4 separate regions of the Homo sapiens genome follow, and all the other regions are linked to region 4. Evidence: fine-mapped expression QTL. A gene starts in region 4. Each other region holds a variant in brackets. All regions are shown on one strand. Distances are from middle to middle. Region 1 has its middle 30 kb from the start of SFMBT1. Region 2 holds the start of GLYCTK (glycerate kinase). Region 3 overlaps STIMATE-MUSTN1 (STIMATE-MUSTN1 readthrough). Region 4 holds the start of PPM1M (protein phosphatase, Mg2+/Mn2+ dependent 1M).

The links. PIP is the estimated chance that this variant, and not a neighbour inherited with it, causes the effect.
Region 1: its variant is fine-mapped to the expression of PPM1M in whole blood (TOPMed, PIP above 0.99).
Region 2: its variant is fine-mapped to the expression of PPM1M in whole blood (TOPMed, PIP 0.90).
Region 3: its variant is fine-mapped to the expression of PPM1M in whole blood (INTERVAL, PIP 0.96).

Annotation. Positions count from the first base shown.
Region 1 is chr3:53,071,960-53,080,059 of GRCh38, reverse strand. It overlaps a transcript of RFT1 not described here. Among named protein-coding and RNA genes, the nearest start is that of SFMBT1, 30 kb to the right of the region's middle. RefSeq lists enhancers at 6,898-7,017, 6,510-7,127, 7,368-7,417. The variant C/A (reference allele first, on the strand shown) is at 4,097.
Region 2 is chr3:52,286,595-52,294,694 of GRCh38, reverse strand. It overlaps GLYCTK (glycerate kinase), which reads right to left and starts at 6,867. Exons shown (of 5, transcript NM_145262.4): 1 at 6,819-6,867; 2 at 3,976-4,391; 3 at 3,584-3,735; 4 at 2,773-2,948; 5 at 1-2,435. The coding sequence starts at 4,352. The coding sequence ends at 1,569. GLYCTK-AS1 (GLYCTK antisense RNA 1) reads left to right here and starts at 4,962. Exons shown (of 1, transcript NR_046719.1): 1 at 4,962-6,115. It overlaps MIR135A1 (microRNA 135a-1), which reads left to right and starts at 387; the gene lies at 387-476. LOC107986086 (a long non-coding RNA gene) reads left to right here and starts at 6,675. Exons shown (of 3, transcript XR_001740699.2): 1 at 6,675-6,862. RefSeq lists enhancers at 3,796-4,296, 7,100-7,209, 6,036-7,235, 6,541-7,282. The variant C/T (reference allele first, on the strand shown) is at 3,884.
Region 3 is chr3:52,862,474-52,870,573 of GRCh38, reverse strand. The region is part of intron 1 of STIMATE-MUSTN1 (STIMATE-MUSTN1 readthrough); the gene reads left to right. All of the region lies in intron 1 of STIMATE (STIM activating enhancer), which reads left to right. Among named protein-coding and RNA genes, the nearest start is that of MIR8064, 20 kb to the right of the region's middle. The variant G/A (reference allele first, on the strand shown) is at 3,978.
Region 4 is chr3:52,240,705-52,248,804 of GRCh38, reverse strand. PPM1M (protein phosphatase, Mg2+/Mn2+ dependent 1M) reads right to left here and starts at 3,046. Exons shown (of 10, transcript NM_144641.4): 1 at 2,757-3,046; 2 at 1,993-2,110; 3 at 1,577-1,831; 4 at 1,011-1,123; 5 at 568-652; 6 at 352-470; 7 at 105-168. The coding sequence starts at 2,980. TWF2-DT (TWF2 divergent transcript) reads right to left here. Exons shown (of 2, transcript NR_135307.1): 2 at 7,708-8,100. RefSeq lists silencers at 2,703-2,762, 2,803-3,172 and an enhancer at 7,445-7,973.

The DNA of each region.
Region 1 (8,100 bases), 830 kb before region 4:
AGAAAGTGGAAAGGCATGAATGGGCCCTGCCATGTGTTGGGTGGCCACAGGCATGAGCTCTCCTGGTCTCGGCTTTCCAAGGCCCGGGCCACGGTGGCCCACGAGGACACCCCTGCACCCCCACATGGCCTCACCCACCAATTGCCAATGTCCTCACCTTGAACCCACTCATCACAGGCTGATCCAGAAACTTGCTGAGTTTTGTTTTGTTGCAAACACTGATTTGCTTTGTTGTTTTTTTTACTTCACTGGGATGTAGGATGCCAGGTTAAGATGGACTGGTTTCTCCTGCCAGAAGCAGCTTTGAATTTAGGATGCCCAGAGGGTGCTGTCTTTTTCTTTTGACAGAGTCGTGGTCTGTTGCCCAGGCTGGTGTGCAGTAGTGCGATCTAGGCTCACTGCAACCTCTGCGATTCTCCTGCCTCAGCCTCTCAAGTAGCTGGGATTACAGGCGCCCACCACCATGCCCAGCTAATTTTTCTATTTTTACTAGAGACAGGGTTTTGCCCTGTTGGCCAGACTGGTCTCGAACTCCTGACCTCAGGTGATCCACTCGTCTCAGCCTCCCAAAGTGCTGGGATTACACATGTGAGCCACTGTGCCCAGCCTAGGGTGCTGTCCTGAACACTATTGATAAGGTGGAGTTTTCCTGGGAAGGGAAGAGTGTTCTGCCTACAGACTTGTGGACATCAGGGAGACACCAGATGTGTCTGGGCCCAGCGCTGATCCTTGGGGAAGGTGTGAGGCCATGGACATTTGGGGTGTGGGTCATATCTGAGTAGTGGGGATCCATCAGGCCTTCCTCTTCCTCCTTCTCATTGTCAAAGAGCCGTGACCTGAGTGTACCTGGTTCTGATCCGACAGCCCACTGCTAAAGGCCTCCCTCATTTCTATCAGCGTCTGTGGGACATTCCCTTCAACTGTGCAGGAGTCCTGGTTGCCTTTGAAGCTTGGAAATGATGTTTTACCACATCCCCACTGCCCACTGGGCCAGAGGACCTGCTGTTGATCCAGACAATCAACAGAGCTGGAGAGCCCGGAACTGTATTCCGATCCCAGCCCTGCCTTTTACTCCTTGTGAGATCTAGCAGGTAGCTTTGCCTTTTCTCCATCTGCAGAAGGTTCTAATAATCCCTGCTCACTCTTGCTCCAGGGCCATTGTGGGGCCAAGGAAAAGTTGGGGTTCAGCAGTTCTTTGGGGTGGAATGGAGAGTTGGAGAGCCAGTGGGCCTGTGCATACCAAGGCTGGAGCCTGGGTCCTGCAGGGGAGCTAGTCCAGCACAGAGGTCACGGTGGAGATTAAAATATTCCTTTTTTTGAAACAGGATCTGGAGCTGCTGCCTGGGCTGGAGTGCAGTGATGCAATCATAGCTTACTGCAGCCTCAATCTCCAGGGCTCAAGTGATCCTCTAGCCTCAGCCTCTGGAGTAGCTGGGACCACAGGCATGAGCCACCATACCCGACTAATTTTTTAAAAATTATTAGTAGAGATGGGGTCTCACTATGTTGCCCAGGCTAGTCTCACACTCTTGATCCTCCCACCTCGACCTCCTAAAGTACTGGGATTACAGGCGTGAGCCACTGTGCCTGGCCAAGTTTAAAATATTCTATACCATGTGTTATTTTTCCTGATAAGTGATTTTATCTCCTGATATTATGTATTTTATGTATTTCTTGCTATTTAATTACAAATTATCCTGAGGGCAACCAGTGCCCTGCAGAAAGTCACAGAAACACTGGGTCCATGTCCTGCCCGAGGCCAGTCCTGACTTTGCCCGTGGTACGCACCTGTGCCGTGCTCACACTGTCCTGCACAGCATCCTTTTTTACTATAATATGCCATTGCAGGTTATTCCCAGCACTTTCTATGTTGTAAACTGTTAAGTGAATATCCTGACACAGAGTCCTCCAAGAGCCTGGTCTCCTTCTCCATTTTGCCTGCTGATGAACCCTGAGAGTGAACTTCACCGCCTCTCAGCCCCAGCCTCGCCCCTAAGAGAGCCTAGGATGGAAGGGAGCCTGCCCAGGTCATATTGAGTTGATGACCAGCCAGCCTGGAGCCTGAGACTCAGGACCTGTAGGTCAGTGGGCCAAACCGTTCAGATCGCCTGGGTTCCACATCTGAAAAGGGCTTTGCATGATGCCAGCCTCCCAGTCAATGGTCTGTATTAATTGTGACATCGTGGCAACCTGTCACTTGGTCATTCAGCTGACAGTCTTTCCTCCTGCAGAGGCCAAGAAAACCATGGAGGAGCAGTGGACCTTGGTGTCCCTGCTGAGCACAAGCCAGCAACAAGGACCTGTCCCCCCAGGCTCCACGGCATCCTCAGCCACAGACAAGCTCAGCCGCTGGGAGTGTGCACCTGTCACAAGTAATTGCTTCCCAAGAAGCAATTCCTCTGGGTGTCAGTAAAGTCACTGATGCCCCAGCCCTCCCCTCAGAGAATCTGATTAACCAGCCTAGCTGGATGGGAAGCTAGGGAACAAAAGCCACCCAGTAAACAGAAGCGGAACAGCCGAGGAAGGGGCTCTGCCAACTGCTCTGGCTCCTTCTGTGGGCGACAGGGCCTCTGTGGGCTAGTGGCTTTGGAAGGGGTTTGCTCAAGGGCCTTGTTTCCCTGCCCACAGGCATGGGGTGCAGCCCCTTATGCTGGAGGCTCATCTTTGTAGCATGCATTGGTGCTTGGGGAAGGTCTTTGAGCTGCCTGGTCCAAGGGTGGATTCTAAGGTTTTGACAAGATCACTCCACGCTCATGCCTGCTGTGGGCTCTGGCACAGACAGACCCTAGTGTAGGTTCCAGCTCTGCTGTGTCCTTTACACCATGATCTTGGGCAGTTTACTAAACCTCTCAAGCCTCAGTGTTTAAGAGGTTTTATATTAATCCTACCTGCTTTTATATTTAATTTCTCTTTTGATCAAAACAATACACGTATGGTACATAGTTTTAAAGGTTGAACAATACTGCAAGGCTGGAAATACTAATTCCCCTCTTCTTGACCCATAGTTTTAAGGTTGAGCAATACTGCAAGGCTGGAAATACTGATTCCCCTCTTCTTGACCCATTGCTTTCAGTTCTTTTGACTCTTTCACTCTTTTTTTTTTTTTTTGAGATGAGGTCTCCCTCTGTTGCCCAGGCTGAGCTGGAGAGCAGTGGCACAATCACAGCTCACTGCAGCCTCAAACTCCTGGGGTCAAGCAATCCTCCCACTTCAGCCTCCCGAGTCGCTGGGACTACAAGTGTGTGCTACCATGCCTAATTTTAAAATGATTTGTAGAGATGGGGTCACACTATGTTGCCCAGGCTGGTCTTGAACTCCTGGCCTCAAGCGATCCTCCTGCCTTGGCCCAAATTGTTGGGATTACAAGCATGAGCCACTGCACCCTGCCTCTTTCACCTTTAGAACATTGATTTCCTACTATGGAAAATGAGCTGATAGCCACCTCTCCATACATTTCCTCCCCATCCTTCAAATGCTATGATTTGGCGTAAGTTGATATTCAGTGTTTACATGTTTAACGCTACGCAAACATTGTTTTCTGCTAAACCAAGTAGTATTCTATTTCCTTTCTGCTATGATTCTTTGTTTTTCCTCAAGCTATAATTATCTGTCTTTTTTATTTGCTTTTTTATATTTGTACTTTATATTCTTCCCTACAAAATCATACAAATCTGACCAAATACACCCAGCAGGTGTGCTTTCCCTGGAGACATTGCTCCAGGAACCCCTCACTACTTATTCCACTCTTACCAACCTATCCGTTTGCCCCTGCCTCCCTTCCCCAGAGGGAAGACATTGAGGCTCAGAGAGGTAGTAAGATCCGGGTGGAAATGCAGGCCTAGATAAGGAGGTACAGTTATGCTCAAGGGCCAACCGCCTGCCCAGGATGCTGCAGCCCAGTGGGGCGGCAGCCACACAAATGGGACCACTTTGTGGGTTTAACATCTGCAGTGTGGGGCAGGGGCCTCAGGCCCTGAGTGTAGAGGACAGAGGCAGGTCTCCCTGTCCATCCTGGGTGACCATTCCTGGTAAGATGCCCCATGCTGATTTCCATCCCCCACCCAGGCAGATCGGAGAAAGAGCCAGCCCCACTTTT[C/A]TCTGATCACCCCATGTTAACTTCCCCTTAAACTTGCTAAACCAGCCCTACCCAACTGCCAAGCTGAGGTTGCCTCCCAGGGCCACCAGCACCCTGCTCATCACAGATGGGGCCACTTTTACTACTTCCCTGTGTCTCGTCTCCCCCATCTCGGGGCTGAGCTCTGAGCCTGCTCCCAGCCAGCTTTGTGCTGCAGGTGACTCTTCATTGCTGGTCAGAGGAGGCTAAGGTCAGCCCTAGGGAATGCATGAAGGTTAAGATGATGCTGGGGGCCCCTGGCCAGCAACTCCCAGTCTTGGTGGCCCAAGTCCTTAAGGGCAGCACACATTCCTGAAGGGGACAGAGAGAGCCTCCTGAGTCAAGAGCTCTTACCCAGACACCACATGCCTCACGATGGAGAGGACTATGCATTGTCGGAGGCTCCTGGTGACTGCCATCCAGCTCACAGGGCCCACTCACCACAGAGGCTGCCCATGAGAATGTCATCCATGTGTTCCTGCATGCCAGAGGCTGTACCTCAAGGAGGCTGTGCCATTGGGCCAGGACTACCCCAGGCATAGGGAGAGGGTACAGGCCGCATATCCTCTCCCTCAGCCATCAAGAGACAAGGGATGGGTGTCAGAGGTGTCTGGGAGATGAAAGATGCATGGAGCACTCCAAATGGCCGCATGCTTTCTAAACACACAACTCACCAGGATTTCATCTGCAACTCAGATTCAATCGGCTAAGTGGGGAAGAAGAAAGTATGTGGTTGTCATGGCAACACCAAATTGCCCAGGACCAGGTTGGTCTCTAAGCAGGGGAAGGGAAGGGAGTGGAGCTGAGCCTCTGTCTCTGTGGTGGGGATGTTCTGGAGAACGGGGCCCAAGGGTCAGGCCCGACATACACCTGTGGGGCAAGGGGCCTTGTTCTCACTACCCCTGCTCAGGGCTGAGGGCCTGAGCCATGCAGTATTATATAAAGGGTTGACTCGGGGCCCTCACTCTGGGGCTGGGGCCCAGACTACTCCAGCATGCAAGTTCCAGAGCCAGCCTCTTGCTAAGGGCCAGTCCCTGCTTCTCCCCACGGGCTAGACCCACCCCAGAGCAGCTCAGATTTGGTGCCTGCTTCTCTTCTTGCCCCCTAGTCCTAGCTGTTCCTGGCAGAGCTTCTGTCTTGAGCTTGGCCATGGATGTGGACACAGCCTGGCACATACCCTGAGTGCGGTCTAAAGGATCAAGGGACACAAAGCCTCACCCAGAGAGTGCCAAGCAAAGCTGATACTTCTATTCATACGCATGCAGTGCTCAGCCTGGCCTCCTTCTTCCCACCAAGAATGAAGTGGAGCCAGCAGAGGGGTTGCCCTGCAATGTGGTCTCTGCCAACCTGGGCCCAGGCCTAGCTGGATAGGTGGTAGGAGAGAGGGCTGCTCAAGTAGGAAGGAGGTGAGCATCAGGACCCTCCCCTCCCCTGGACCTGCCTTAGCCCTGTTTTGATTCTGACCATCCAGTGCTCTGGGGACCCTGGAAAAGGTCCTGGCTCCAAGGTCCACCTGACCAGCCAAGCCTGGCACATCCATCTCTGTGGTCCCAGGATCTGGCCACAGGAGGGCTCCTGGACACGTAATACATGAATAGATGGAGTGACATAAAGAATTAATCAGTGGGTGACTTAGGCAGTGAGAACTAGGAGCAGAAGAAATGAAAGAGACCAGGTTGGGAGGGGGGATGCTGGTAGGGCCAGGTTTAGGGGAGCCTTAAATGCCAGGCTGAGAGGGGGTGTTTGTCAGGCTCCCCCACACCCAGCTTCTGCCCTGGCCCTGGGACAATTTCCGTCTTCCAGAGGGGCCAGTAGGGATCCTGGCAGATGTGGCCCTGATCACCTGATCCCCTCTCAGAGAGACAGAGACCCCAGGGCCCATCCCCCAGAGCCTGGCTCACCTGGGCCCTCGCAGGGCCTGCCTCACCGGGGCCCCGCAGACCTAACTGCTTCTGCTTCATGGTCTGTGGGTTTTCCCAGTCGTCCAATTAGTGCTAATTGGAAGCAGGAAGTGTGTGCATGTGTGGGGTGGGCCTGGAACTCCGATGTCCTTGTCAGAACTTCGAAGCCCTGTGCTTCCTGGGACAGGCTCTTCCCTAGAGCTTTGTGGTCTCCCGCAGGGCTGGGTAGGGTTGTTGGGAGCTCCCCGAGCATTGGGTATACTGGCTCTGTGCACAACGGGGCCTCTGCTCTCCAGAGGGCTCAGGCTCTCACCGGCCACCTCTTACCCCAGGTGCCAGTTGCCCCCAGGGCAAGGCAAGCTCATCCTTTTCACTGCCAAATCCTCTTCGCCCGGCACAGAGCTGCGGCTCTTCACAGTTTCACTCTAACAACGAAGGGAATGATGGGCTCAGGGCCTGGAAGAGAGGCGCAGAGGGGGCCTCCTGAACCCCTCACTGACCCTTGGTCCAGCCTCAGCCCGTGGCTCCATAAAGGCAAGGAAAGGCCTGCTTTATCTGACTGGCCACACACTTGTGCTTCCCTTGGGGGACAAAGGGTGCAGAGGCGCTTCCACAGAGGCGGGACTTCCGCTTACTTTCCCTCCTCCCCGTTTCCCCGCCCCCTCCACTTGCGGCACAGGTGGGGGTGTCCAGAGGCAAAGCCCCTTTTGTGTCAAGCCCCAGCCCAGGTTCTCTCCTCACCCACAGATGCTGGTGCGCAGTCTGACGGCAGAGGCTGTAACGGGGGAAGCATGGGATGTGGGCACATGGGGGAAGGCCCCGGAACCCAGCCTGGGCAGAGGCCGGTGCCCCACCAGGCTCTCTCTCTGCAGTGTTATGTCAATCATTGCCCACAGGTGCCCTCGACCTGGACACCGTCAGGCCTCCTTCGCGGTGGGCTGAAACCCTGTGGCACAGCCCAGGACCACCCAGCCCCACGGGCTGGGGGCTCACATCTGGAAGCAGGGCCCCCCAGGACTCAAAGGTGCTCGGAGATGAAGATTGCTGGGTGTCAGCTCATGGGGCCAGCCTCGGCTTCACCCCCAGGAAATGCCTGCTTGTTGCTGTGCGGCAGGCACTAGAGCAGGCAGAGAGGGCGGTGGGCTCCTCTGAGGTCGCGGGCGGAGCCCTGTGAGGAGAGACCTGGCCGCCGGCAGCCACTAGAGGGCAGGACCCTCCTGTGTGTTTCCTCCAAAGGGTTGTTGAGCAGATGAGCGGGACTGACAGGAAACAATGGAGCAGCCGCCCCAGGGTGCAGTCACCACAAGCCTGCTAGAAGGGCTCAGCGGAGGCTGCGATGCGTCCGAAAGTCCACTGGACCCTAGACCTTAAATGGCCTCCCTGAGCCTTTAGGCTTTTACTTCCTGGGAGCCCAGCCCTGAGCCAACAGAGACAGTGCCTGGCTCCTACATTGGCAGAGAGTGACAAGTCAGTGTCCCCTTCTTACAACATCAGTGGTAGAGGAGCAATTAGGAGAGCAGGTCCTCCAGCTTCTTCCAGGTGCAGTGTGGAAACAGAGGCAGAGAAGAACTCACCTGACCGCACCTACGAGGTGGGTAGGGACAGATACTTCTGAGAGTGAACCATCAGCCAAGCACGCCCAGCAGCCCTGGGGGGTCAGTGCATGTTGTCGGGTGCTACTTTTGCAGTTGGGGAAACTGAGGGTCAAGAGAGGCTGTCATTTGACTGAAGTCCTACAGCAAGGGTGGACCAGGGTTCCCGCCCGGGCAGGATGATGCTGAGCCTGCATGCAGGCTCCCACGCAGCCTTATCACAGCCTCATGTAGAGACGACCTCCTGTGACCTCGCTGACATGAGTGTGAGTGTGTGGGGACCCTGGCTGCCGCAGCAGGAATGAGGCAGCCTCTCTGCATCCTGACACTCCCAGGCAGAGGCCTGTCCTTCATCTGGACCTACCAACAGTGACGCCAGGAGCAGCTGCCTCTAGGACACGTGTTCCCCTGGGCCAGAGGAACTATGTGAGGAACCCATGGTGCATGCCATGACAACCCTCCTTTAGGGCCTCTTGAGGCCACAGTGGTGCTA
Region 2 (8,100 bases), 46 kb before region 4:
CAGAGGAGCACCACGGCACAGGATCATGCGAGGATCACCATAACCCCAGAGACTGTGACCCTAGTCAGCAGGAACTCCATGCCAGCACAGAAGGAAAGGAAGCGGTGCCTGCGCATCCCAGTGGGGTGCAAGCTCCCCTTTTCCTAAACCTCCCTGGTCCCCAGAGCCCGCTTACCACGTTTACCTCCCTCCCAATCTCCAGCCTGCCCTGTGTGAGCCAGGCCCCCAGGTCATGAACTGTCTGCAAGCTAGGCTGCCCAGAGCCCAGGTGGGGAAGGGAAACCCTTCCCAGGGGAAAGTCCTGCCAGCCCTGGCCCAGGGCCCCTCCACACCCTCAGGGAGGAGGGGAGGGTTGGGGTGGAAGAAGTGCCTGCAAGAGCAGCCCCAGGCCTCGCTGTTCTCTATGGCTTTTTATTCCTATGTGATTCTACTGCTCACTCATATAGGGATTGGAGCCGTGGCGCACGGCGGGGACAGCCAGCGGAGGGTTCTGACACTGAGCAAGGGGGCTCAAAAGGAGGCAGGACAGTGGCACCTCCCTCTCTCAACCCAGGCTGCTGGCCAGGCCAACACAGCCGTTCCTCTATTCCCACTTGCCTCTTCTCCCGCCAGTGGTCACAGGAAGAGGTGTGGGTCACTGGACCTCATCACTGGCTGGACCCACCATCCCAGTGCTGGGACCCCCACTGAAGGGCTGACTTCAGGGTCTGGACTTGGTCCCCAGAGGAGTGGCTGAAGGAACTAGGGATGTTCAGCCTAGGACAAGGGCTGTCACAAGGAAACAGCACTGGGGGGTGGGACAAACTTCAGCTCAACCAGAAGTGCAGTATGTGGCTAAGGGCTGTCCAAAGACAGAAAGGACATCCATCCAACGAGGCCTACAAGCTGAGGCTGGAGAAGCCATGGTGACAGTGCCATGGTGGAGTCATGGTTGGGTGGGTGGGTGGCTGGTCACCCCAGACTGCAGTCTTTAGGCCTGTCCTCCCTGGGGTCTCTGCTCACGCACATCAAAGCTGTCAGGAGCCAAGCTCAACCCTCACACACTCCAGAGGGATGGGCACAGGCTCCCGTTATGCGAGGCACATCCTGCACGTACCCAGCCCAGTAGAGGGGTGTTAAGAGTCCTGCCAGGCCCTGGTACTGTGGCTGCAGCCGTACCACGCTCCCCTCCCAGCGGCTCCCCCGTGAGGCCTCACTCTGAGGGAAGGCGCACTGAGAACCCATGGCATGGTCCTATTTATTTTCAGACATTCTCGCTTCACAGAAAGAAACAGGGTGAGGGGCTCAAGAGAGAGGCTGCCCAAGGGAGAAGCACGGGAACGCTGAACTGGCCGAGGGGCTTGTCCTCATCCTCAGGGGTAGGGGGAAGCCCCCATCTGCCAGTCTGGCTGGAAGGGAATAGATATAGAGCAGAGGCCCTGAGTGGAAGGTGACAGTTAACCAAACAGCCAAGGCCAAGGAGAGGAGGGGCCCTAAGGCTTAGAGAGGCCCTGAGGACCAACCTTGCTCTGCCATCTGACCTTGCCCTTGTAGGCCTCCTCTGAACTCCCAAAATGTGACCTATGCCATCACCGAGGCCGCAGGAACAAGAGGTGGGTGTCCATGACATTGGTACCTGTCATCCCTGTGTGCAGCAGGTGTGCCCCACCCTGGAGGCAGCAGAAGAAGGTATGTGAGTCATTGTGGGCTAGGAAGGTGGCTATGTCCAGGCCCTCAGCTGCAGCCTGGCTGGCAAGCTCAGGTGTGACCCAGGCCCCAGCAGCCTCTGTGGGCCCATCCTGCCCATCGGTGCCACCGCTCAAAAACAGCACATCTATCGGCCCCAGCGGCCACCTTCTCAACTCTGCTCCAACACGCAGGGCCAGTTCCTGGTTCCGGCCACCCCTGCCCGAGCCCTGCAGCTGTACTGTGGGCTCGCCACCAGCCAGCAGGCAGACTGGGCCCCTTCCCCATGCCATGGTCTCCAGAGCCTCCTCCAGCTGCAGGTCTGGGATCTGAAGCTCAGCTGCCAGCTCATGGAGCTGTGCATCTTCCTCCACAGAAGCCCCAGCCATGGATGGGGTGAGGCGGGTTCTAGCCACATGGGCCAGCAGCCCGTAGAACTGGGCCATACTTTTTACATCACCTTGCATGGCTGCACTCAGCACCACAGCCTGGTAGCCCAGTGCCTCGGCCTGCCGCTGGGCCTCAGCTAGCGCCAGCACATTAGAGCCAATGATCACATTCAGGACATGGCCACAGGTGTGTGGCCCATGGGGGTCAGAGTCGGCCCGAGACAGCACAGTCTTCACAGAACGTGGCAGGGCTGCACGGAGGCCGTAGCGATTGAGGATATGCAGGCAATCTTGCACATTGTGGGAACTGGCCACGGTGGGGCCACTGGCAATCACCTCCACAGGGTCCCCCACCACATCTGACAGGATGAGGCTCACCACCTGGGGAAGGGCCACCAGACAAGGCTCAGGCCCACTTCCTCCTCCCCTCAGAGCCCATAAGGACAAACTGCCCCTAGGGTATCCACACACCCTCCCCCAACTCAGTGCATTTCCTTACCCATGGTTAACTCCTCTCACGTGGGCTTGCAAAACACCTGGTCATGCAGGCACCTCCTCCCCGTCTCTGGCACCCCTCCCATGATGTCACCCAGCCGGCCCCATGGTCTTTCACACCATGCCCCTGCCAATCTATATGCTGTTCTAGCTTTCACATCCCTGGCACATGTGGGCCTGGCTCCACCAACCCAAGGTTGCCTGGGGAAGAAGGGACTCATACCTGGGCAGGGTAGGCGGCCTGAGCCAGCCCCCCACCCTTGAGCTGGGACAGGGCCTTCCGAATGGTGTTCAACTCCTGGATGGTGGCTCCACGGGCTGCCAGCAGTCTAGTGAGTGTCTGCTTCTCCTCCAGTGTGACAGGTGGGATGGGGGCAGGCAGCAGAGCTGAACCCCCACCTCTCAAGACAATGAGGGTATCAGGTAGAGGGGCTATCCCAACCCAGGGAACCAGGCAAGCAGGGGTGACAAGCCCACATTAGAAAAAGGGGGCTGGAAAGGTGGGGTTAGGGTGCCCCCCTGTGGATATGCAATATGTGTACAGTCACCACATCCTGGCCACCTGAGGTTGCCCCTGCCTTGGGGTACCCCAGGTCCCAGTAGGCACCGGAAGAACTAACTACTCCTTAAGAGACTAGAACAGGAGGCAGGGCAGGGGGCACACAATGGAAGATCAAGGAGAGGACTCCATGAGGTCTGAGGGCCTAGCCCCAGGTGACATTAGTACAGACAGCAGCAATAGCAGTGACATTTTCCAAGGACTCTACGGATGTGTCAGGCCCTGCATTATGTGCTCCCCATGCACCCTCTCACTGTCACCGAAAAGGTCAGCTCAGGGGGAGGACTCCACAGCTCAGGGGAGGCCAGACGACTAGCCCAAGGCAACCCAGGAGTCACCATCCAGGCTCCTCACCACCTCCCTTGCTCCTAACTTTACCCTGTGACCCCGGGGGCTCAGACCTGATCTCTCGAAGACCTGAGAGATCAGGTGGTGCACCCCCCACCAACAGTCTTGGGCCAATGTGGTACCACACCTGAGATCAGCACGAGCAGCAGGTCATCAGCTGTGAGTCCCTCAGCCAGTTGCTGGATGGCCAGTGCAGCCCGCAGCGCATCGCGGTCCGGGAGGTTGTCCTCCGCACCCTCGAATACCTGGACACGGCTATGTGGCTTCAGCAGCATCTCCCTGGGGAGGGAAAGGTCAGCACGCAAGAGATGGGGTGGACTCCTCTCCTCCCACCTGATCTCTCAACTTTACAGGTGATGGGGGCATGAACGAAGATGCCCACTGACATGCATCCTGGGGCCAGGCCAGATCCAGGAGAAATGGGAAG[C/T]GGGTGGGGAGGGGAGGCCCGATTCAGCCTGTGTCTGGGCCCAGGTTTCCCTCCAGATAGATAGAGGGAGGCAGGCCCCCATGGCTCCTTACTGCTTGCCGGCACGCTCCATGGCAGCACGGATCCCCTTGGGAACGCTGATCACGCCCTGCACAAGATGCTGGCCCAGTAGTTCCTCAGCTGCAGCTGCCATACCCAGCACAGCCTTGCCAAAGCCCACCAGGTAGAGGTTTTGCCTCAGCTGAAAGTTCCGGTCCCGCACCTTCAGCTGTCTGCCACCAGGGTCCAAGGATAGTGCCCGGTGCAGCATGGGGCCCGGCAGCACTGCACCTACAGCACTCTCAAACAGCTGCCTGGCCTGCTCTGCCAAGGCCATGCTGCTGGCCAGACGGGCCACTGAGCCCCGCCAGAGGAGTGGATGCAAGGGGGCTCGGGCCAAGCGGGGCAGGACCTGCAGGGCTGCAGCCATGCCCCACTGCTCTCAGCACTGCCTGGCACCCATGGCTGCCTAGAGGGAAAAAGCACAACTGAGGCCCTTGCAAGGCAAAAGACAGGAGGTCCCCCACGGCCGCCCCTCTGAGGGCTCAGGGCCAGTGGACCCCACAGCTGCTGCTACAAGAAGGAGCCATCTGATAGCCCCAGGAGACTTCCTGAAGCCTGCAGCTGCAGGATCTTACTCGTCCTTGGAGACCAGCCCTGCCACCCAGCCACGTCCTCCTCTTCTGCAGACCACATGCCGGCCCTCTGGATACTCTGCCTCAAGTCCAAAGTTCCTATTAGCTGGGCCCTCCTCCCAGGTCACCCCTTTGGCTGGGAGTTAATCATTGACAGAGGGAGTAATTTCTACCAGTGGGCTCCCATCCCACCCCTTTTCCACCCCCTGCACTTCTGCGCTGTTACCCTGGGGCAACGCCCCTTTCTGGCACTCCTTCCTTGCCTCTTTACCACCTCTGCTGCCAGGAAGCTGTTGATTGTCCCACCAACTGACCCTGAGCCCATTGACCTCCAGTCTTCTCTATTTCATTATCTCATGAGACTGGGATTAGGAGCCTGGGAAGTCAGGGTCTATAGGAGGCTGCAGGTTTATCAGGTCAAACCCAGAACACATCCTCAGGGCAAGCAATCTGAGGAATCTCAGTATGCAGGACCAGTTCAGCAAGAGGTTTAGGTTCAAATCAGGAGTGAGGGCAAAGTCTGGCTCATGGTGGAACCTTAGAAAAGTCCCCAGGCACCATGTGAGGCCATGTGCCATGAAGCCCAATTGCAGGACAGAAAAGGATGCCCTTCTACCCACACAGTTGGCCAGACCCAACCCTGCCAAGAACACGCCTTCTGGTTCCAAGATAACAAAAACAAGTCCTAGGTCACACCACCCACAGTGGTGAGAGCCCAAGGGCTGAAGTAGGCAAAGGCCAGGCTCCCATAACTGAGCCCATAGCCATTTTCCCCACTGGGCAGAGTAAAAGCTAAAGAAGCCTTGGGGCGAAGGTCAGGAAGCTGTAGAGGGGTATAGGAACAACAAAGACCCAAACAGCTCATCTGTACTACATATGTACTATTGCATCTACTTTAATAAATGCCTACCATAAATGTTGCAAGCTGACTTCATCAGCAAGTATGGACTGAGCAGGGTAAGGAGGCTGGGAATTGAGGTTCCAGCTCTACTATAGGCTTTCTGAGTGGCTGGGACACCTCCATTTCTCTCACTGGGCCTCATCCGCAAAATGAGACATGGGGTGAGATTAACACTACGCTCTTCCCTTAACAACCTCAGGCTCTCTGATACTGTCCACTGCAACACAGATCTCAAACACCGGTTTACCCCACACCCAAATATGGTGGTTACTTCTAGACTTTGACCATTTTGCTTGCCTAGTTCTCAGCTCTCCGGTAAGAAAAGACAGCCATGCCTGACTTCTGTTGTGAAAGGGAACACAGAGGGCATCGTCATGGGGATTCCGAAAATGGGTCCAGTTTTGGCCAGGGGGACCCCTGGAGCTTGCCCATTGGACTTGGAGCTAAAAGCATCTTAGCAACTAAGACAGCCGGTCTTTATAGCCTGGATGAAATTTGTATCTATTTCCCAGATGGACAAGAGCCTAGAAGATCCCAGCCTTGCCACTGGGTATGAGCACAGGACAGGGGGACGCTCAATGCTAAGGCTGCCAGAGAAAATACAGGACTTCCGGTTAAATTTGAATTTCAAATAAACAAGTAATTTTTAAAGTATAAGTATGTGCATACAATGTTTAGGACTTAACAATTATTCGTCGTTTATCTTAACTCAAATTTAACTGGACGTGGCCCGGCGCAGTGGCTCACGCCTGTAATCCCAGCACTTTGGAAGGCTGAGGCGGGCGCATCACCTGAGGTCAGGAGTTCGAGACCAGCCTGACCAACGTGGTGAAACCCCGTCTCTTCTAAAAATACAAAAATTAGCCGGGTGTGGTGGGCGCCCGTAATCCCAGCTACTCGGGAGACTGAGGCATGAGAATCATTTGAACAGGGGAGGCGGAGGTTGCAGTGAGCCGAGATCGCGCCACTGCACTCCAGCCTGGGTGACAGAGTGAGATTCTAACTCAAAAAAAATGTAACTGGACGCTTTGCATTTTTATTTGCTAAGTCCTCCAATTCTATCCAAGACACGGTCTCTCCGAAACTCCGGGAGGCTCCAGAGCAAAACAACGGAAATAGGAAGACTACCGGTCTTGACTCCTCCCCGCCATCAAAGAAGGCTGGTACCATTTCCGGCTTTCCCTAGACAGTAGGGGGCCGGAAGTGACGTCATCCTAAGGTAGGGCCTTAGCGAGGGAAATGGCTGCCGCGTAATGCCCGGTGATGCGAGAAAGAAGGGCCTGCTGCCACCAGGACCCGTCATCGCCCAGCCCAGGGACCGCTTCTGAAGGCCATGCGAGCCCTGGCGGCGCAGACTTACCAGCCCACAGCTCCGGCCGCGGTGCCCAGCGCTGGAGAACGGAAGTACTAGGGGGTGGGCGGAGCGGAAGCCGGAAGTGTGGGTGGGTGGAGCGGCGCAGGCGGGTGCGAGCTCTGGCTGAAGCCGGTGTCCGGGAGGGGAGAGTTTAGCATATTGGCTCTTTGCTGGCCACTGACAGACCTGGAAGGAGTCACCTTCAGTCCTCATTTTTTAAATCTCTACATTGAGGGTAATAATCCCCGCCTCACCGATTGCCGATTTTTTTTTTGAGACGGGGTCTCATTCTGTCGCCCAGACTGGAGTGCAGAGTCGCGGTTTCGGCCCAATGCAACCTCCGCCTCCCGGATTCAAGCGATTCTCATGCCTCAGCCTCCCGAGTAGCTGGGATTACAGGCATGTGCCACCACTCCGGGCTAATTTTTGTATTTTTTAGTAGAGACGGGCTTTCGCCATGTTGCCCAGGCTGGTCTCGAACGCCTAACCTCAAGCGATCCACCCACCTCAGCCTCCGAAAGTGATGGGATTACAGACTTCAGCCGCCGCACCCGGCCTCTCCCTTCCTTTATCCTGTACGGTCAGTCAGCAGATGCACCCTGAGTGTCAGGCACTGACTGGGCTGAGCAAACGAACTGAGAATCACTACTTCCCCACAACTCACCCCTTCTGGAGCCAGATTAAGTAATTCCCGCTCCTCTCCATGGCTTTTATTCCACAACTTATTATTGTTCTTCCCTCTCCCACCATGGGCCACCAAATACAGCTCTGGCTTAGCAAGAGTTCCATTCTGCGATCCTCAAGCACATAAGCGGCATGTAAACGCTAATGACTCTGGGCCTACCTCGCTGTCCCTACTCTCATCCGGGGCCTACCCTGTGTTGGCTGGATGCCTTCCCACATTCATAAGATGAGTCCTGATCAGACTCCAAAAATACAAAACAGTTCACTGTTTTTACTGATGTTTTCTTAGGGAGATAGAGGAGAGAGTTGCATCACAAATCACACACTTGATTTCCTAACAATTTTATTGAAACATGTTTCTTGGCAGGGCGCAGTGTTTCACGCCTGTAATCCCAACATTGGGGAGGCCAAGGTGGGCGGATCGCTTGAGCCTAGGAATGCGAGACCAGCCTGGGAACATGGCGAAACTTATCTCTACCAAAAAAAAAAGAGCCAGGTGTGGTGGCATGCTCCTGTAGTCCCAGCTACTCAGGAGGCTGAGATGGGAGGATCACCTGAGCCTGGGAGGTAGAGGCTGCAGTGAACCTTGATCACGCCACTGCAC
Region 3 (8,100 bases), 620 kb before region 4:
TAGAACTTGAGAGTCTTGATGGCTTCGTGTTTCTCTCCTGTGGGCCCAGGTTGTCCCTGTTGCCACTCTCGTGTGCTCACCTCCCAGCACCAGCATTCAGCCTTTGGGCTGACAGAGGCCGACCAGCCTGGGGTAGCTTGATATCTCTTGGGTCCGTTCCCACGTGGGAAGCGCAGGCCAGATTTGGAACCACAACCGTGGTGATACAACCACCAGTGATCGTGGTTGTTTTCAGATGGTGACATTTTAGATGATTTTTCTCTTTCCCTGGTTTCCAAACTTACTGCAATGATTTATAATTTAAAAGAAAAAAAGAGGCCAGGTGTGGTGGCCCACACCTGTAATCCCAGCACTTTGGGAGGCCAAGGCAGGTGGATCACCTGAGGTCAGGAGTTCAGGACCAGCCTGGCCAACATGGTGAAACCCCGTCTCTACAAAAATTAACCGGGCATGATGTAATCCCAGCTACTCCGGAGGCTGAAGCCAGATGTGTGCTTTCTTGTTTCCTGCAGGTGGACTTCGTGCTTAAAGATTTACTCTTCCTCCAGCAGTTCCTCTAGCTGCTGCTTCTTGCTAGCATGTGCATGGTGCTTGCCAAGTACAAAGCATGGCTGTAATACTCTTAAGTATATTGTTTTATTAATACTCCTGTGAGCTGTATACTATAATTTCTTCCATCTTATAGAGTCCAGTTGAAGCCCAGAGATGTTAAGCAAGTCTCCCTGGTCCCACAGTCGGCTCTAAAGCCAGGTTTTGAACCCAGAGCTCATACTCGCAAACACTAAGCTCTGCCACCTTTGACTTGTGATGGGACACCAGTATGTTCTGCTCTGTTTGTTCAGTTTAGTAGTTAAGTGCCTACTTCATTCCAGGTACTGGCCTGGGTGCCAAGGGTATAAATATGAATAAGATAAGGTCTCTGTATCCCTCCTTAACTAATTGTCTAGTGGGAGACAGGCAGATGCTTAGTATTGCATATGAAGTGTTGTCCAAAGATGTGCATAAGAGACTTTGGGGACCCAGGAGAAGGGAGGGCACTTGGTTCAATTGCAGGGAGCTAAGCAAGATGTCTTAGAGCAGTGGGAACAATCTGGAAGAATGCCTAAGAACTATCCAAGAGAAGAAATGGAGGGCCCCTCCCACGCCAAGGGGACAGTATGAGTGACAGCACTAAGGTGGGAGATGCCAGGCCATCAGGGCCCTTTTTTGCCAACTTACAAAGCCTGTATTATGTCCTCTGATGTTGGGGATGTGGGGCTGGCACTGGAGGGTTTTAGGCCAGGAGCAGCGTGCTCAGTTCACTCTGGTCCAGTGTCGGGGTGGATTCAGGCGAGAGGACTGGAGTCAGGAGGACTTGCTAAGGCAAAGGGATGGCCTTGATTCTGGGAGTTTTTTGAGCACCAGACCAGCGCCTTTTCTCCCAACTTGAGGGATCAGTTGGATGATTTTCTCACTGGATGATTATAGTCAGTTTTGTATTCCCCTCAAGATGGCAGGGGAAATGTGGGCTTTGGATTCAGGTAGACTTAGATGCAACTCTTGGTGGTGCCATTTTGGCAATGGCAAACCCCATGACCTTATCTGTAAAATAGAGATGATACTTTGCCGGGTTGTCAGAAAGATTAGAAGCAATGATATAACGTTCCTGAGGTGTGGCCAGGTGCATTGGCTCACACCTGTAATCTCAGCACTTTGGGAGGCCAAGGCAGGCGGATCACTTATGGTCAGGAATTCGAGACCATCCTAGACAACACGGTAAAACCTTGTCTACCAAAAATACAGAATTAGCCAGGCATGGTGGCGCGTGCCTGTAATCCCAGCTACTCAGGAGGCTGAGGCAGGAGAATCACGTGAACCCAGGAGGCGGAGGTTTCAGTGAGCTGAGATCTCGCCACTGCACTCCAGCCTGAGCGACAAGAGCAAAACACTGTCTCAAAAAATAAAATAATAAAATAATCAAGTTCCTGACGTGAGTACTCAATAGGTGGTGACAGCATGACAGCCATAACGGCAGCTGCTCTTCTCCCCACAGTGAACCCATGAAGTGGACAACTGAAGAAACAGACTCTGAAAAGTTAAGTGACTGGCTTAAAATCATAAAATTTTGGATAAAGCTGGAACTAGATTTCAAGCTGTTCCTGACTTGACTGCCCTTAGTTCCCTGCCATAAGAATCACCTGGACCTCCATTTCTCCTTAAAAAGTGGCCTGACCTGGATTTAGAGTTCTGCTAGGGTAGAACTGAGTCACATGGCCACACCAGCAGCAGGGGAGGCTGGGAAATATAGTCTTTAAGTTGCCTGACCAAGGGGCTTCTCTTAGCAAGGAAGAATGAGAGAATGGATTTGGGAAGCAGCCAGCAGGCTACCTCAGTGACTTCTGGGGACTTTTTCCCTGGGCGTCTCTGGGTTTTTAGCCCTACTACAGGGCATTGAGGAGGTTTGAGTGGGGCCTGGTTGTTGGGATGTTCGTTTATCACTTAGGGAAGGTGCAGAAACACTTCTGGGTTTTTCCTTGACTGCTGGTTCCCTCCAGCAGATAGATTTGCTCACCCCTCAGGACAGTTTCTGCCATTTGGAGCACTGGAGACCTGGTCAAGAATTGTGGAGAGGGGGCCTGGGCTCCATAGGACCAGCCAGGCATGGCTTGAGGTCACTGGCCTGACCAGTGCTGGTTAGAGAAAGGCTTGGCCCGGGTGACTTGGCTTTCTTTGCGGCTCCTCTACTAACTGCTGGGGTGATTCTGGACAAGTCAATTCCCCTACCATTTTCCACACCCTACCCTGGAGGGGGTTGGACACTCAAGGACCCTTCTGGCTCTGAATGGGAGCCACACTGCGTAGTTTATGAGCTGATATTCAGCTGGAGGTGGCGCTGCTTGCCACTTGCCCAGGGGAAGAGTCCGCTGCCTCAGCACTCGCCTGTGTTGCAGGAGGCACTGGCCCGTGAGACAGCTTGAGAAATGAGGCCATCAGGGAGTGGTCCTGTTCAGCAACATGCCATGGGGCAGAGGGCTCCAAAACTATGGGTGTGTTTCTGCCTCCGGGTCATTGGAAGGTGGGAGTATTTTTCCCCAGGGATGAACAAGAAAGCATACAGGCTTATGGCGTATGAGCTCATGGCTTCCAGAGCACCCCATTCCTGAGAGTTGGGAAACCTGCTCATGCACTGAGGTCCAACGTCTCACACAAGGACCAGCGGTTTTGTGTCCCAGGACTTCCTGCTGTCTGTGAGGGAGAGTGATCCAAAGCATCTTACATTTCTACTTTTGGAAAGTCATAAGCTAAAATGGCCACTGGGAGGCCTGTGATGATCCTCCTGCTTTAAGGTTACACTGTAGATGTAACAATACAAATATTTAACTGAATTGCCTCGGTGGATTTTCATGGCAAAGAGCAGCTTTGTGCCAAGAGCCCTGCCAGGTTCATGAGCCTCTTCCTGTTCTGTATCCTCAGCAGGGGGTGATTTTCCACCCATGTTTTGCTGGTCTGAAAAATGCCATCTGGTAAGAGGGATGCAAGGGACTGTACCACCTGGTAGCCAGGGCTGCAGCCGGGAGACCCCGGCTTCCCTGTCTTTATGCAGCCACACGCCTTTCCCTGCACCTGACAGGAGCCCACCACATTCCCCCTATCCCTGCATCTCTTGGGCTGCACCTCCCTTAAATTGAGTGTTTAATCTCAAGACAGTTGTGCTTTTTGACTCAGTTTCTAAATAGGGCTGCAGCTGCTACCTGGAAATTATATCCCTTCCAACGCCTGTGTTTTTTGACTTGTTACTCTACCACTCTGTGACATCAAGTGTAAAATTCCAACTTCCTTCTGCTAGTCAGTGGGTCCACGTGGAGCGCCAGCCCAGATCGGGCTCTGAGGAGGACAGTCGAGCTGGGTGCCTGGTCCCCGCCCTCCACATGCCAAGTGAGAGTGGCGTGTGGAAAACCAAACAACATAGCGTTAAGTGAGCAGTCGGTGACCTGGGT[G/A]CTGTGTGAAGTCGACAGGTAGAGTTGAGTCATCCATAATTGCTGTCCTATTGTGTGGCACCAGTAGCACTGCCCAAACTTCTGGGAGAGTGAGCACCACCACACCCTGGTATCCTCAGGGGAGGGCGTGAGCATGGGGAAAAGGAGGGGCTCTGGGCTCATGTCCGAGAGGAGAGAGCAGGTGAGATGGGGTGGGACTGGGAGCCCTGCCAGGCCCCTCAAGGCGGTAGACGGTGGCAAGCCCCGCAGGTGCCCTGGCACCCAAGTGGCCTGATGGGTGCACGCCGCAGCCGTGCTGAGACAGCCTCTTCAGCGATCAAATTGTCAGAGTGAGAAGGTTTGCTAGTACACCATGCTGGCAAGAATGTGGGAATGGGTACTCGTGCTATTAGTGGGAGTGTGAGTTGGCACAGCCTCTGTGGAGAGCGGCGCCACAGAATAAGCCGCACATAGCTTTTGATGTAGCAAGTGTGCCTCTAGGAATCTGCCCCTCAGATATGGGCCCACACAGGCAGAGGTAGCACATGGCAGGGACATTCGCGGCAGCAGCTCATAGAGTAAATGAGATGGCACAGCCACACTGTGGGATGCCATGTAGCCTCTAATGAAAGAAAATGGAGCCATGTGTACAGTAGGTGAGAGCAGGAAGGTTAGACAACGTGTAAAGCATGTGACGGTTTGTGTCCCCCCACCGCCCCTACACACACACACACAGATCTGTGCATCTGTGTGGTTGTCCAGCATGTCTTTGAAAGGATATGTAAGGTCTTGGGGACAGTAGTTGGCCCTGAGAAGGGAAACAGAGGGACTGGGATGTCAGCCAGAAGGGAGACTTTTCACTGAATATATTTTGTACTGATAATGGTTTGGCTCTGTGTCCCCACCCAAATCTCACCTTGAATTGTACTCCCATAATTCCCACGTTGGGGTGGGGGGACCTGATAGGAGACAATTTGAATCATGGGGGCAGTTTCCCCCACATTGTTCTTGTGGTAGTGAATAAGTCTCATGAGATCTGATGGGTTTATCAGGGGTTTCTGCTTTTGCATTTTCCTCATGTTTTCTTGCCGCCGCCATATAAAAAGTGCCTTTTGCCTCCCACCATGATTCTGAGGCCTCCCCAGCCATGTGGAACTATAAGTCCAATTAAATCTTTTTCTTCCCAGTCTTGGATGCATCTTTATCATACTGTAAATTGGTACCAGTAGAGTGGGGCATTGCTGAAAAGATACCCAAAAATGTGGAAGCAACTTTGAAACTGGGTATCAGGCAGAAGTTGGAACAGTTTGGAGGGTGCAGAAGAAAGGAAAATGTGGGAAAGTTTGGAACTCTCTAGAGACTTGTTGAATGGCAGTCGGGCACCGTGGCTCACGCTTGTAATCCCAGCACTTTGGGAGGCCAAGGCGGGTGGATCACAAGGTCAGGAGTTCAAGACCAGCCTGGCCAAGATAGTGAAACCCCATCTCTACTAAAAATACAAAAATTAGCTGGGCATGGTGGCAGGCGCCTGTAGTCCCAGCTACTCAGGAGGCTGAGGCAAGAGAATTGCTTGAACCCGGGAGGCAGAGGTTGCAGTGAGCCGAGATCACGCCACTACACTCCAGCCTAGGTGACAGAGCAAGACTCCATCTCAAAAAAAAAAAAGAAAAGAGAGAGACTTGTTGAGTGCCTTTGCCCAAAATGCTGATAGTGATGTAGACAAGGTCCAGGCTGAGGTGGTCTCAGATGGAGATGAGGAACTTGTTGGGAACTGGAGCAAAGGTGATTCTTGTTATGTTTTAGCAAAGAGACTGGTGGCACTTTGCCCCTGCCCTAGAGATCTGTGGAACTTTGAACTTGAGAGACATGATTTAGGGTATCTGGAGGAAGAAATTTCTAAGCAGCAAGGCATTCAAGAGGTGACTTGGGTGCTGTTAAAGGCATTCAGTCTTGTAAGGGAAGCAGAGCATAATCAAAGTTTGGAAAATTTGCAGCCTGACAGTGTGATAGAAAAGAAAAACCCATTTTCTGAGAAATAAAAGCTGGCTGCAGAAATTTGCATAAGTAACAAGGAGCCAAATTTAATCCCCAAGATCATGGGGAAAATGTCTCCAGGGCATGTCAGAGGTCTTCACAGCAGCACCTCCCATCACAGGCCTAGGAGAAAATGGTTTCGTGGGTCAGGTCCCTGTGCTATATGCAGCCTAGGAACTTGGTGCCGTGCATCCCAGCCGCTCCAGCCATGGCTGAAAGGGGTCAATGTAGAGCTCAGGCTGTGGCTTCAGAGGGTGCAGGCTCCAAACTGTGGCAGCTTCCACATAATGTTGAGCCTGCGAGTGCACAGAAGTCAAGAATTGGAGTTTGGGAACCTCCGCCTAGATTTCAGAACATGTATGGAAATATCTGGATGCCCAGGCAGAAGTTTGCTGCAGGGGTGGGGCTCTCATGGAGAATCTCTGCTAGGGCAATGTGGAAGGGAGATGTGAGGTCGGAGCCCCCACACGGAGTCCCCACTGGGGTACCGCCTAGTGGAGCTGTGAGAAGAGGGCCACTGTCCTCTAGACCCCAGAATGGTAGATCCACCAACAGCTTGCGCTGTTAGCCTGGAAAACCTGCAGACACTCAACGCCAGCGCATCAAAGCAGCCGGGAGGGAGGCTGTACCCTGCAAAGCCACAGGGGTGGAGCTGCCCAAGACTGTGGGAACCTACCTCTTGAATCAGCATGACCTGGATGTGAGACCTAGAATCAAAGGAGATCATTTTGGAGCTTTAAAATTTGACTGCCCAGCTGGATTTCGGACTTGCATGGGCCCTGTAACCACTTTGTTTTGGCCAATTTCTCCCATTTGGAGTGGCTGTATTTACCCAATACCTGTACTCCTGTTGTATCTAGGAAGTAACTAGCTTGCTTTTGATTTTACAGGCTCATAGGTGGAAGCAACTTGCCTTGTCTCAGATGAGACTTTGGACTGTCGACTTTTAGGTTAATGTTGAAATGAGTTAAGACTTTTGGGGGACTGTTAAGATGGCATAATTGATTTTGAAATGTGAGGACATGAGATTTGAAGGGCCAGTGGCAGAATGATGTGGTTTGGCTCTGTGTCCCCACCCAAATCTCACCTTGAATTGTACTCCCATAATTCCCACATGTTGCGGGAGGGACCTGGTGGGAGATAATTTGAATCATGGGGGTGGTTTCCCCCATACTGTTCCTGTGGTAGTGAATAAGTCTCACAAGATCTGATGATTTTATCAGAGGTTTCCATTTTTTCATCTTCCTCATTTTCTCTTGCCACCACCATGTAAGAAGTGCCTTTTGCCTCCCGCCATGATTCTGAGGCCTCCCCAGCCATGTGGAACTGTAAGTCCAATTAAACCTCTTTTTCTTCCCAGTCTCGGGTATGTCTTTATCAGCAGCGGACTAATACATGTACTCTGAATTTCATTGAAAGAAAAAGAGAAAAGAATCTTTATTAGTTTGCTAGAGATGCCATAACAAATAATCACAAACTTCTTGGCCTAAAACAGCAGAAATGTTTTCTCACTGTTCTGAGGCCCCAAGTCCAGAGTCAAGGTGTGGGCAGCGGCCACACTCCCTCCAGCAGCTCTGGGAGAGGACCCTTTTTTGCCTCTTTCAGCTTCTGGTGGCTCCAGGATTCCTTGGCATGTGGCTGCATAACTCCATTCTCTGCTTCCATCTTCACAGGTCCTTCTTCTCTTCCCCTTCTGTCTCTATTCCTCCATCTCTCCTCCATCTCTCATAAGGATACTTGTAATGGGATTTAGAGCCCACCAGATTAGTCCAGAATGATCTCATCTCATGATCTTTAATTACATCTGCCAAGACCTTTTCTCCAAATAAGGCTGCATTTGCAGGTATCAGGGGTTGTGGGACATACCACGTAGGACACCACCATTCAGCCATTATCATTGCCAACTAGATTTTGAGGGGAAAACTCACCTATATGCTTCTTACACTTAAATATAAAATTGAAAGAAGAGAGATTGAAAAAAATACCATACAACACTACTAAAATAATATACTCTTTGAATTTTATATACTCTCCATATATTCACCTTTTCCAAAAGATGTACTTTGATTCTAAGATGAGGCAAGTTTTTAGGCAAGTTAGATGGTACACA
Region 4 (8,100 bases):
CCCAGGCCACCAGCCACAGCTACCAGCAAGAGGCAAAGGAGCTCCCACCTCTGCAGGGGACAATGAAGAGGGATTCTTGGGGTTGAGGAGGACCAGGCACTGACCTGCCTACCCTGTCCATGGATCAGTGGGTACTTGAGATCCGATTTCTCCACACGTTTGTAGCTCCTACCAGGAGCAGAGCCAGCATCAACCCAAGCCCTGTGCCCCATCTCATCTTTCCCCAACTCAGGGCCCAGCTGTCACACCCTCACAGTGCCACCCTGCCAAGGTGGAGGGGGGCCCCAGGCCATACGGCTGGGCCTGGATCCCAGGGGTCTCCCTTCCTACCTGTCCCCCATCCCCACTCACCAGCCACTCATGTGGTGATCCCTGAACAAAACCTTCTGTCCCAAGTCATCCCCCTTCAGCCGCCGAGGGAACTCCAGTCGGGTGAACTCACCAGCCAGAAGCTCAGGATAGACAAAGGCCTGGGGTGGGGAGGCTGCGCTCAGGTCATACTCCTTCTTATGGCCCTGGACCCAGGAGTTGGAGCTTCACAGCCTCCATGCTGCCAAGGGCACCTACCAGCTGCTGGATCCGCTGCCGCTCAGTCTCTGGGGTGAACTCGAAGCTCAGTGGCCGTATCTCATCTCTCCGCACCAAGATGGCCCTGGATTGAGGAGAGAAGGGAGAGGTCTAGGAGGAGGCCTCCACCCTCACCCATGGCCACCCTCCTACCAGTCCCTCCTCCAACCACCAGGATCCAGCTCTGTCCATGATGATCCCTTAAAGCCCTCCATGACTACCTAAGACCTGCAAGGGTGAAGGCTTAGCCCTTTAGCGGGGCCTTTGAGGTCCCTGCCCTCCCCGGCAGCCACTGTCCACACTCGACACATAACAAGTACACACACAATTCAGCCAGTCAATCCTTCCTACTATCCCTCCACTTCCAGCCACCTTTGCTTGTCCCCATTGCTGCTTATGCCCTCCCCATCCCACCCTTGCCCACCCTCCAAGGGGTGACTCACCTGCTATCCCCAGCATTGGCCATGTACAGCTTTCCCTGCAGGGACACAGCCACCAGGGCTGTGCAGCCGCCCATCTGGCCTGAGGCCTCCAGCTCCCGCCCGATCACCTCATCCTGGGGAAAACCGAGGCCACCTTAGCTGCTGCCTGTTCTGCCACCATACTACTTTGTCTCTCAATCCCCACCCTACCCTACAGTTCACTTCTACCAGCAGGCCTGACAGTCCCAGCCCAAAGTCCAGCCATACCTCCAAGATCCCTGCAGTCAGGAGATCTAGACAAGGGAAGTGCTACTCAAAATAGGAAGAGAAACCAGCCCCTGCACCAAGGACCAATAGGGTATTCAATTAGATGATGCAGGTAAAAGCAGTTAGCACACAGTAGGTGCTGGATAAATGAGAGGGGTTATGCTGATAGTGATGGCTGTTAGTAACAATCCAACCAACCCAATCTCATCCTCCCAATCCAAGGATCTGGTGTGATGACCATGGGTATACAGAGATGCCATTTCCTGAGATCCCCGGGGCAAAATCTCCACTTCTTCCCCAGCCAAAAGCCACACACTCACACATTCCTGAAAGGCACTCTCCAATGCCCCGATCACCAAGTCTTCTGCCCTGATGCCCTTTTCCTCCACAAACTGAGGGTCACTGGGGCAGATGCAGCGGCCATTGAGGTGCATGGGGGGCTGAGTGGCCACCAAGCCTTCCACCACGGCCTCCAGCTGCCGGCGCAAGCAGGAGTGCAGGGTGTTGGCAGCCAAGATGGCTGCTGCAGGACCGCCGTGCCCATCGAACAGTGCCCAGTAATGGCCTGTCAGGAACTGCACAGGAAGGGCTCAGTGTCAGCCTCTGCCTGACTTCCCCACTTGTCCCCTGACGCAACCTAACTAGGACCTGGGGCAGCAGGGTAAGAACCTCAGCCTGCAGGTCGTGGCCCCAGCCTGTCGGAGGGATTCCAGCCAAGAACTCAGACTGCACTCACCTCCTCTGGGCACAGGGTCAGCCACTCTTCTTCAGCCCCAAACTCACATCTCCGGATGCACAGCTTCCCACAGGCGGCTTGATCCTCATTGAATTCAGATTTCTCTGCATTGATAATCCTGAGGCCGGGAAATGGTAAGCGACCCTCCAGGGACACACCTATGTCCCCATGGGCACAGGGACCCAAGCCAGCACAGGGAGAAGACCCCTCCCTCTGGGGCAACAGCTCCCCAGTGCTGTCCCTAACACACACTTAGACAACCACGATGTAAGCTTCCTAACTTCACTGGCCTCATGGCTAAGGTAAAAGTCAGGGCCCAGCTCCTCTGGAGCCTACCTGGTGACCCAGGGCTAGACGGTAAGGGTAGGTTGCCATTCCTGCCCCTGTCCTGTCGCAGCCCAAAGCCCTGTCCCATACAGCGCAGGTCATACCCAGGGTGAGATGGTGGGGGTAGAGGGCGAGGGGAAATCTCCAAAGCCCCGAATGCTGGAACTCTACCGAGTCTCTGGGCCTCATCTTGGAAGCCCCTGGGCTGCAGGTCCTTCCCGACCTCCTGTCTTCTCTGAGGGGGAGGTCGGAATCCCAAGGAAAACGCTGGGTCGGGATGACCGGGAAGTTGTCAGGATTCGGAGGTGAGGGCAAGAAGGGGCTGTCCACAGGTGGGTGGGGACTGTCACTCAGCTCCTCCCGCTTTCTAGGCGGGCGCAGGACCCGAAGCGGGTTCAGGCCCGGGCCTGAGCTGGGGGTCGGGGAGGGGCACTCACTCGGCGTAGCCTGCATTCCAGGGTAGCGTGCGTCCTCGTGCGGGGCTGCGCACGGGCCGGGAGTCTGGGCGGCGCGAGGCGTCGGCCGCCCCGGGGCTGGAGCTGGAGCCGCGAAGGAAGCGGGGCCGTCGGTAGGGCACGGGGCTGGCATGCGGCCCAGGCGGCCGCGGCGCGGGGAGCGGCTCCCCAGGCAGGAAGCGGCGCCGGAACCAGCCGGCGGACATGGCGCGGCGGCAGGGGGCTGCCCGCGGAGCGCGGGGCGCTAGGGCTGGGCCGCCCGCGGGAGGAAGAAGCGGGCCGCGGGCGGAGCCGAGGGAGGGGTGCGCCGGCGGGAGGCGGGGCCGGGGGCGCGCAGACGGGAGGCGTCGCCCCCCAGCCCCGACCTCCGCCCGGGAGTGCGTGCGCGGCTGGTTCGCTGACTCCAGGGGTCAACGCTCGCGACCGCCTGAAGAAGCCCACGCCGGCATCAGCCCCATTTGACAAGCAGGAAAACCGAGGCCTAGAGAGGCGAAGTCGCCTGCCCAGCGTCCCACAGTAGCCAGGGAGGACTGTTCACCCACGCTTGCGGGGCACTGGTGGTTGAGAGGAAAAGTCCCCCACACTCCGCGGGGCCAGCGTCGCGCAGATCCTCGGACCTCCTCCTGCTGGGTGGGGACCTGACGCAAGGGGAAGATGGGGACAAAATGAGCTGGGAGGTGTCAGACCCCCACATTGAGTAAATGCCACCGAGCACAGGTTCCTTCAGGCGGCCTCCAATCCTCTCCACCCCGGCCTGCCACCCTCCACCCCAGACGGGCTTAGTGGGCACCTTGGCTTTCCCCGTCCTGAGAGGCTGCTGCCACCCTCGAGGACAGTCTTCCAAATGGCTGTCCCTGCATTCAAGATGTCTTCGCGGAATAGACAGCAGGATCCTTACTGGACTGTGAGTGAGTGACGGACAAGAGAAATCTGTGTGAGTGTAAAGGGGAATCCGTGGTCCCCCAAAGGCTCCAGCTGGTCCGAGTTCAGACCTGGGACGGAGGGAAGTGAAAGACGAGGAACCATCTTGCGGTCTCTCAACCACTGGCTAGCTGTCACCAGGCGGTCAGCCGCAGTGTCCCCTTCACATCTGCGAGTTAACAAAGCACTTTGTCACCCATTTGTCACTCAAGTCCAACTCCCTGTGCAAAAGTGTTACTTTGGCCGGAGGCAGTGGCTCACGCCTGTAATCCCAGTGCTTTGGGAGGCCGAGGCGGGCGGATCACTTGAGGTCAGGAGTTCGAGACCAGCCTGGCCAACATGGTGAAACCCCGTCTGTACTAAAAATTAGCCAAGCGTGGTGGTGTGCGCCTGTAATCCCAGTTACTCAGAAGGCTGGGGCACAAGAATCGGTTGAACCCAGGAGGCAGAAGTTGCAGTGAGCCGAGATGGAGCCACTGCACTCCAGCCAGGGCAACAGAGCGAGACTCAGTCTCAAAAAAAAGAGTGTTACATCATATGGACGATTCTGAGGCCCATGGAGGGGAAGTCTTGGACACCCAGGGCTGTACTATTTCCATTATGACAATGCAGCTGACTCAATCCTCGCCCCCAGGGCACTTCTCTTCCCCTTTCCTCCTCCAGGAAGCCAGGGCTTGCCAATTAAAAGCGGCTAAGGCTCCACAGCCCAGTGCCTGCATATGAGCTGTATGAGGAGTCCACCTTCACCTCCACTCCCTAGCCCAGGTAGACGCTCAGTAAGCCCTACTTCCTCCCAGCAGCTAGTCCTGCCCCAGTGGGAGTTCCTCGGGCCCAAGAAGGAAGGTTCTTAGGGCAGGGACCTGTGCCCAACACCCACTCCCTCCGATGACTCAGTCCCAGACCAGCCTGGGGGCTGATTGACTGAACCCACAGTGTCTGCTGGGGCCACACTGGGCACAGGAACGCAGTGCTAATGGAGACAAGCCAGGCCTCTGCCCACCAAGCCCCCTGCAGTGATGGTAGCAGTTCTGGTGGATGCTGCTTCATCCAGCTGGCAAGAGGATAGGGGCGATGTCAGAGAAAGTTTCCCAAAGGACCTCTGAGCTGTGAATTGTCACTGTGACAGAACAGAAAGGTACCAGGGTGGGGCAGGCCCAATTCAGTCTATGGGGCCACTTCCTCACCCTCACCAGTTGATGCCTCAGAGGATTTTAAAGTCTAAAATTGGACAAAACAAAGTGCATACACTCTATTCCCCAACCCACCCCTGGGTGGGGGAAAGCCTTGTCCTGAAGTATTTTCACAGAAGCTCTGGGCAACCAAATGTCATAGGCAGTCTGTTGCACAGCTTAGCCATTGTCTATTTTCAGAGCCATGTGGAACCACATGGCAATCCCATCCTCTCTGTTCCAAGGTGGCCTGAGTGTTCCTTCAGTGCTACCAGGCTCTTCTGGCTTCCTGGGCTCCTAAGCGCCTCACTCTTGCCTGGATCTTAAGCCTATGTCTCTTGGTTTACTCCCTCATTTTGCTGAAGTGCATCCTTCAACAACTTTCCAACAAAGGGTGACTGGGAGGTACTTTCCTGAGAGATGTTATTTATCTATCTTTTTCTGTGAATGGTCTGTTTGTATCCTTTGCCACACTTTCTACTGGGCCATTTGTCTTTTTCTTTTTCTTTTTTTTTTTTTTGATACAGAGTTTCGCTCTTGTTGCCCAGGCTGGAGTGCAATGGTGTGATCTCGGCTCCCCATGACCTCTGCCTCCTGGGCTTAAGTGATTCTCCTGCCTCAGCCTCCTGAGTAGCTGAGATTACAGGCATGTGCCACCACGCCTGGCTACCATTGGTCTTTTTCTTATTGACTTATGAGAGCTCTTTATATATTAGAGAAATCAGCTCTTTATTTTGAAATGAGTTACAAGTATGCTGTTTGTAACAAGTTACAGTTTGTTATTTGTGTTTTGGCTGTGATGGTGGCTTTTTCCATATAGACTTTATTTTTTATGCAAATGGATTATTGATCTTTTCATAAAGGAAAATAAAAATTTCAGGACCCCCAAATTTGTTATGCTAAAGGGAGAGTTAAGCTTGGAGACTGAGCCACACAACACTGGCATTCCTTTTTTTTTTTTTTTTTTTTTTTTTTTTTTTGAGATGGAGTCTTGCTCTGTCACCCAGGCTAGAGTGCACTGGCACAATCCCGGCTCACTGCAACCTCCGCCTCCCGAGTTCAAGCAATTCTCCTGCCTCAGCCTCCCCAGTAGCTGGGATTACAGGCACCCGCCACCATGCCCAGCTAATTTTTGTATTTTTAGTAGAGATGGGGTTTCGCCATATTGATCAGGCTGGTCTCGAACTCCAGACCTCAGGTGATCCACCCGCCTCGGCCTCCCAAAGTGCTGGGATTACAGGCGTGCTGGGATTACAGGCGTGCTAGGATTACAGGCGTGCTGGGATTACAGGCGTGCTAGGATTACAGGCATGAGCCACCACACCCAGCCTTTTTTTTTTTTTTTTAATTTTATTCCGGCAACACTTCATTCTATGCTGCAGAACTAATGTTCTCCAAAACTGTCATTCTTTTCCCAAATGGATACCTGTTACCTTGCAACCTTGTGTCAAAATATTATGCATTAACCAGATCCCCACAAAAAGGCAAAAAGCCTCATGAATCTCCAGGTGACTGCAATCACAAATTGCTCAGCAGTAAATTCTTTGCCAGTCCCTAAAACTTTCAGGATGTATATCCTCCTATAAAACAAGGACATGTCAACTGCAACTTTAGGTCTGCAACCTAAACCTAACTCCTAAAACCAAAGTCTGTTAAATTTCACACTGACAATGTCAATTACAAGTTTATCTGCCCAGGTGCAGAACAAGGATAAGATGAGATCAATCATTCCTCCACCTAACCTGAGACCTCTGCATAATTGGCTCTTCTGTTACTCCCTGTTCTTCCAGTGTTCACCCTATCTTCCATATAGCTTAGATTTACGGGACACTAATTAAGAGTCTCACAAAAACATAACCATTTGCCTCACTGTCTTCTCCCCTTTAAAGAAATGTACAAATATTGAGCCTCCTGAAAACTTCTTGGGAGAGCACAGGCCACAGACGTTTCTTTGACTTGTGTTGCTTTCCTGGGCACGCTCCAACTCTGGCTCAGTAAACCTCGATTGATTGAAGCTCTTGCCTCAGTCTCTTATTTGGGTTAAGATTTTCTTTTTTTTTTTCTATAGACTAATTTTGGAAGTGAAAGATTTTCTTTGATGGTTTCTGTGTTTGGTGACACAGAAGTTTCCTCCACTCCAGATTCTACAAACTCCTCCCTTTGTTTCTTCAGTATTTTTAAATTTTTTAAGAGAGCCTCACTCTGTCACCCAAACTGGAATGCAGTGGTGTGATCACGGCTCACTGCAGCCCTTAACTCCTGGGCTCAGGTGATCCTCCTGCCTTAGCCTCCCAAGTAGCTGGGACTACAAACATGTGTGACTGTGCCTGGCTAATACATATCTATCTATTAATCTATCTATCTATCTATAGATATATATATGTAGAGATGGGGTCTTGCCATCTTTACCAGGCTGGTCTTGAATTCCTGGCCTCAAGCAGTCCTCCTGTCTCAGCCAAGTAGCTGGAACTACAGGTGTACATCACCATGCCTGGCTAATTTTAAAATAATTTTTTTTTTTTTTTTGTAGAGATGGAGTCTCACCATGTTGTTGTCCAGGCTGGTCTCAAACTCCTAGGCTCAAGAGATCTTCCCACCCTGGCCTCCCAAAGTGTTAGGATTACAGGCATGAGCCACTGTACCTGGCCCCCAACTTCTCGAATAAAATGAAACTATGATTCTTGGCCTCACTCACTACCATGTGACATTGATCAAATCACTTCACCTCTCCAAACCTCAGAGTCTTTATCTGTAAGATGGAAAAAGTAACACCTACTTCAGGGGCTGTCATGAGGATTAAATAAATGTGCCCAGCAGGTAGTAAGTATACAACACAAAGCATCTAATGGTTCATTCATACATTTGCTTATTTTGCAATTATTGGCCACCTGCCAATGTTGGGCACTGTTCTAGGCACAGGGGATACAGCAAGGGCAAACACCTAACTACTGGTGGAGGGAAGACGATAAACAAATACGTAAAGATTTGTGCCAGGTAGTGATAAAAGCAAAGAATGACCCATGGAGAGGGTCAGCTGGGGAGACCACGCAGTACCCTACTTTGTCACAGTTCATCCAGTGAGGGACATTTTTACAGGGCACATGACCTTAATCTTTTTCATTAATCTTGGTTAATTCATTTCCAGGAGGTCAAGTCTCTTGTGGTTCTGTGGAATCACCAGATGCTCCTGTGGGTGTGGCTTAGTCTGAGCTGATGTAACAAGTAGCTCTGTGTTG